Linked DNA regions of Homo sapiens: region 1 is linked to region 2. The links come from fine-mapping of genetic effects on gene expression. A gene starts in region 2. The other region holds a variant in brackets. All regions are shown on one strand. Distances are between the middles of the regions.

Region 1 (2,715 bases), 44 kb after region 2:
GCTGCCTCCAGGTCCGCAGGCCTGGCGCGGATCGGTGCGGGGAGCCGGAGGCGCAGCGATCCCAGCGGAGGGAGCGGCGTGGGGGCAGCGAGCACCGCGCGCGCGCCCGTCGCCGCCGCCGGAGCCTCGGGGCGCGTGCGCGCGGCGGGGGCGGGGCGCACGTGCGTGTGTTTGTGTCGGAGCCGGCCGGGCGGACGCGCGCGGGGTCGTTCCCTCAACCAGCGAGCTCCGGACGCTGAGCTAAAGACGAAAATTGGCAGGAAGAGCGGCACTGGCCCCTTAGGCTCCGCTATAACTTCCTCCATCCCCCATTCCCCCATCTCCCAGCACCCTTCTCGCTACACAGACCGGCTCTCAGGAAAAGTCTAACTAAAGTGAATTCGCTGCACCTACTCGGGCAAGAGGCGTCACATGTCTTTTAATTTCGCAAATTGAAGAAATCTGGCTCAGCTCCCGCCTGCCAATGTTGGCGGGAAATTCATTAGTCACATTCTGAGGTTCCCCCTCCCTTCTCTCTGTGGCTGTGGGGTCTCAAAAATTGGGGGAGGGGTTCCCCCCACCCCACCCCCGTCTTGATGCTACTAGTTCATGACCCTTGAGGTACCACTGAAGGGCACAGCTCCTTAGCCTGCAAGCCAGCTGCGCAGGAGTGAGGGGAAAGGGGGTGTTTGGTGAGCCCAGGCCCCAGAACACCCCTTTACAGACACCTCATGCACCTCTCCCCACTCCACCTGCTACACACACACACACACACACACACACACACACACACACACACACGGACTGCATACAAGCCAGGGACAATTTCCATTCCTGGAAACTCCGAAACCCTTCCCAGCCCGGAGGAAGTCATTCAGCCCTTAGGTCTGGCCACTTGCCTTCTTCCTAAACCAGTGCCAGCTCCCCACTCCCCTTATGGAGCAATTGCAACATAGTTTCTCTGTTACCTAATCCTCAAGATGAAGGCCAGTGGTGGAGGTGGAGGGGTTTCTTCTTTAGGGTGGCCCCTGAAACAACAAGAAGCTGTTACTAGTGTATGTTGTTTGGGTTTGGGGGTGAGGAAAGAGAGAGATGCAGGAAGAGCCTAGACCTTATCATTCAAGATGTTAGCTGTTCTTGAGATGGTGGACCATAAGAAATTACCTTTTTATTTGTTCCAGTCTCTTATAACAGCAAGATCAAGACTGAAATTAATGTCTCAGTAGATTAGCTTGCTAAGAGTTTTAAAAAGAATTTATATCTGTCACATGTTTTACCATGAATTTTAGTGAATATATTATCTCTTCAAGGAGTATTAGCGTGTTAATCTTATGCATAGTGTGAAAAGGTCTTTCTGCAAGGTGCAGTGGCTCACACCTGTAATCCCAGCACTTTGGGAGGCTGCGGCAGGAGGATTGCTTGAACCCAGGAGTTCGAGAGCAGCCTGGGCAACATGGTGAGACTCTGTCTCTTAAAAAAAAAAAAGGCATGGTGGCAC[G/C]CACCTGTGGTGCCCACTACTTGAGAGGCTGAGGTCGGAGGATCACTTGAGCCCTGGAGGTCAAGGCTGCAGTGAGCCATGTTTGTGTCACTGCATTCCAGCCTGGGTGACAGAGCAAGATCCTGTCTCAAAAAAAAAAAAAAAAAAGAAAGAAAGAAAGAAAGAAAGAAAGAAAGAAAGAAAGAAAGAAAGAAAGAAAAAAGAGAAAGATGTTCTGTTCTGTTCATTTCAGGCATCATTGAAAAGATGAGGAGGGTAATCTTTTTGGAGGACAAGGTGTGAAGAATCTTGAAATCACATTGCATCAGTTATCTATTGCTGCATAATCACATTACCCCAAAACTTAGTGACTTCCTACAGCAATATACATTTATTGCCTTTCACAGTGTCTGTTGGTCAGATTCAAGAGCAGTCTGGTGGACAGTTCTGGCTTGGCAGTTTCTCATGCAGTTATGCGTTAGATGGAGCTACAGTCATTAGAAGGCTTCACTGGGGCCATAGAGGCTCACTTAAATTCATGTGGCTGGCTGTTGGCAGGAAACCTCTATTCTTATCCATAAAGGTCTCTCCACAAGACAGCTTGAGTTTCCTCACAACACGGTAGCTGACTTCCCTCAGAGCAAGAGATGCAAGAGACAGCAAGACAGAAGTCACAGTGATCTGGCTCTTTGAAGTGATGGATATCACCTCCACTTTGGTCACATATGCAATTCCTGATTCAATATGGAAGAACTACACAAGGGCACAAATACCAGGAAGAGAGGATCATTGGGACCATCTTGGAGGCTGGCTATCACACACATCATCTCTGAAGTTACATCTATTTTTTAATTTTGAGAATTTTCAAACATACACAAAAGTGAATAGTACAATGAACTCCCATATACCCATCACCCATTTCAATAATTATTAAAGAAATGTCATCATTTTATTTTGTACAAATATTCCTGAGAAACATATGCTCCTCTCACCCCACCCCTCATCTGCATGTTGCATATTTTCTTTTCACCCCAGTGTTGTTCCAGGCTCTCTCCTCTCCCTTTCCTCTTTATTTTTATTTTTTAGACAGAGTTTCGCTGTTGTCACCCAGGCTGCAGTGCCGTGGCATGATCTTGGCTCACTGCAACCTCCGCCTCCTGGGTTCAAGTGGTTCTCCTGCCTCAGCCTCCCAAGTAGCTGGGATTACGGATGCCTGCTACCATGCCCAGCTAATTTTTATATTTTTAGTAATGACAGGG
Region 2 (3,011 bases):
CTCGTGCCTTACCCTTCGGAGTAGCTAGGAGTACAGGCACGTGCCACCACGCCCTGCTAATTTTTGTATTTTTAATAGAGACAGGGTTTCACCATGTTGGCCAGGCTGGTCTCGAACTCCTGGCTTCAAGTGATACACCCGCCTCCGCCTCCCAAAGTGCTGGGATTACAGGCTTGAGCCACCGCGCCTAGCCAGACGTCAACTTTTCAGTACGTTTCAATATATTCTTTGCGCCTCATTCCTCAAAGACCTTTTTTCACTCTCATTTAAATGGTAATGACCATTTTAAAGGAGATTAAGTTTCTACTTGTTAAAGATTAATAACTTTTTTTTTGGAGACAGAGTCTTGGACTGTCGCCAGGGCTGGAGTGCAATGGCGCGATCTCGGCTCACTGCAACTTCCACCTCCCGGGTTCAAGCAATTCTCCTGCCTCAGCCTCCTGAGTAGCTGGGATTACAGGCGCACATCACCACACCCGGCTAATTTTTTGTATTTTTAGTAGAGACGGGGTTTCACTATGTTGGCCAGACTGGTCTCGAACTCCTGACCTCGTGATCTTCTGGCCTCGGCCTCCCAAAGTGCTGGGATTGCAGGCGTGAGCCACCAAGCCTGGCCAATAACTTTTAAATCACTAACATACAAATGTCTTTTGTTGTTTTAAAAAAAAATCAAAACAATACCTAGCTAGACAGGATAAAAAATCAGCAGCTTATATTCTATCGCCCTTTTGTCGGTACTGGCGGTATGTTAATCGTGAGGCTTAGAACCTTGTTTCACAGCCCTGATCGTGCCTTTTGAGAATCTTTTACGTTCTGGATATTCTGGTATGGAAGAGGAGAAAAACCGGCGCTGGGCAGTTTGCAATCCAGGAAAATAGGGAAGGATAAACCTGAAGCCTGTGCGTCCAGGTGCGCCTGGCTAGGGTTTCCGACGGCCGCGGTGTCTCGGTGGGGACCGGTCCCGGAGGCTTCGGCGAGGAGGACCCGGAGTCCCCCCCGCCCCGCGGCGGAACTAACCACGGAGGCCTCTGGTCCCTTTAAGGTGCCCGGCGAGCGGAGAAAGGGAGCAGAGGGGGCGGGAGGAGGGTTCGGGAGCGCACGCCACGTGACCCGGCGGCCAAGTTCGCTGCGAGTTTGACAGAAGTTTGAATCCGAGTCGGGGGCTTTCTGCTGCCGGCGGGGCACCGCGGCGGCCGCAGCCTCTGAGAGCACGAACAGCAGCGCCCCCGCGTCCCAGCCAGCCAGCCAGCCAGACTGGACTCCGGCCCACCGACGGCCGCTCGCGCTCCGGCCCCGCTCGCCTGCTCTGCCCCGGACCTGCAGCTCCCCGCTCCCCCGCCGTGTCCGCCGCCTCCCGGCCAGAGAGCCAAGCCACCACGCCGCGCCCAGCGCTCGCCGCGCCAGCATGTCCTCGACCGAGAGCGCCGGCCGCACGGCGGACAAGTCGCCGCGCCAGCAGGTAGTCCCTGCGCGCCCAGGACTCTCACCCGCCCCTCTCCACCTAGATGTCGGGCTGCACACTTATCCCACCCCTGGACCGCGTGTGAGTGGGGCAAGGGGACCAGCGCCTTCCCAGGGTTCCCCACCGCCCTGACCCCCCGGCCGGCTGTGTCTCCGCAGGTGGACCGCCTACTCGTGGGGCTGCGCTGGCGGCGGCTGGAGGAGCCGCTGGGCTTCATCAAAGTTCTCCAGTGGGTGAGTCGCTGCCCCGGCCCCGGGCTATTTCGGGAGCCTGGGCTGTGACGCTGACCTGAAGCAATGGAGCCAGGGTGGGGGCTGGGGAGGTGCTGCGGCCGGGCCACGGCGGAAGGGTGGGGGGCGGCGACAGGTGGGCGGGGGAGGGGCGGGCTGGGGCTGCTTCTCCGGACTTAGTGGCAGGAGGGTGAAGAGCGAGGCATGCGGAGTCCCGGATTCGGTCCTTCTATGTGCAAGGAGCCTTTGCCCAGGGCGCTCACATTTCACCCGGGCGAGAGGACCCGGGTGTAACCTTTCCAGAACTCTGATCCTGCACATACCACTCCTTGGTGACGGGAGGGGGGAGAAGGACGACGGGGACGAGGTCCGCTCTTCACCAAGAGGGAAGCCGCAGAGGGCAAAGGAGGGAAGGAAGCAGGCGATGGAAACCGTCCTGCCCCCAAACCCACCAGGGCCTGGATGATCCTGCAAGTACTGGGCTCAGGGGACAGGCTCTCGGCTCGCCGTTCCCTTTTGAGGTCACTGGAGTAATCCGAGTTCCTGTAAATGAGTGAGGGAGTGGATGAATGAATGAACGGAGCTTGTGGTTCTATGATTAAATAAAAGAAAAAAATAAGAATAAAAATCACGGCATGGCTAAAATGTGGCATGTAGAATAAAATGGAACACTGATCTGAGAAGCTGGGGCCCTGGGATCCAGACCTAGACTGGCCTTTTCCAGCTATGTCACCTTGGGCAATTCATTTCTCTGGACTTCAATTTCCAACACTAGTTAGATGTTGATCAGAACCTTCCTAGGGTCTCCTTATGCTCTAAATAGTTTGGTGTGCCAGAATATGGCCCTAGGTTAGACTTACTTTGTGACCTTGAAAAAGTCACTTGCTCAGGTCCTCAGTTTCCCCTGTTACAGTCTAGTGGAAATACTATCTTGCTTCACTAGGCCAGTGCCTAAGGCCTCCTGGGTATAAATTAGGAATGTGGACAGGTGCAGTCAATTTCTCAAATCATAAAGACTTGTAGGGGGCATTTAGTGCACTATTGCAGAAGAGATTTTAAATTAGACAATCCACATACCAAATGGTGTGTGAATAACTTAATTAATGTGCTCTCAGTACAGAATTCAGCTAGGGAATAAGTTACCATTAATACTGAGGAGGATTGAGTTCTACAGGGCTTTGGAGACAAGAATTAGCACTGTGACACCAGTTCTTAAATCATGGTTTGGATGAGAATAATCAAATCTGGAACCCAGGGGCAAAAGTGCATTTGGGATTATCGGGCCAGCCTGGGAGCTCCCAAGTGCAAACTCTGGGACC

Direction of the effects. Alleles are on the strand shown, and positions count from the first base shown. SD is a standard deviation of normalised expression in the study named.
With allele G in place of C in region 1, the expression in spleen of the gene that starts at base 1,108 in region 2 is higher (small effect, 0.31 SD a copy in GTEx).

Evidence for each region. PIP is the estimated chance that this variant, and not a neighbour inherited with it, causes the effect. A credible set is the group of variants that fine-mapping cannot tell apart.
Region 1: its variant is the best candidate, but not a certain one, in a credible set for the expression of SYPL2 in spleen (GTEx, PIP 0.51).

The regions. Positions count from the first base shown.
Region 1 is chr1:109,509,635-109,512,349 of GRCh38, forward strand. AMIGO1 (adhesion molecule with Ig like domain 1) reads right to left here and starts at 93. Exons shown (of 2, transcript NM_020703.4): 1 at 1-93. LOC105378893 (a long non-coding RNA gene) reads right to left here. Exons shown (of 3, transcript XR_001738179.2): 3 at 968-1,007. RefSeq lists a silencer at 1-96. The variant G/C (reference allele first, on the strand shown) is at 1,478.
Region 2 is chr1:109,465,439-109,468,449 of GRCh38, forward strand. SYPL2 (synaptophysin like 2) reads left to right here and starts at 1,108. Exons shown (of 6, transcript NM_001040709.2): 1 at 1,108-1,459; 2 at 1,621-1,695. The coding sequence starts at 1,406. RefSeq lists enhancers at 539-1,040, 1,041-1,540.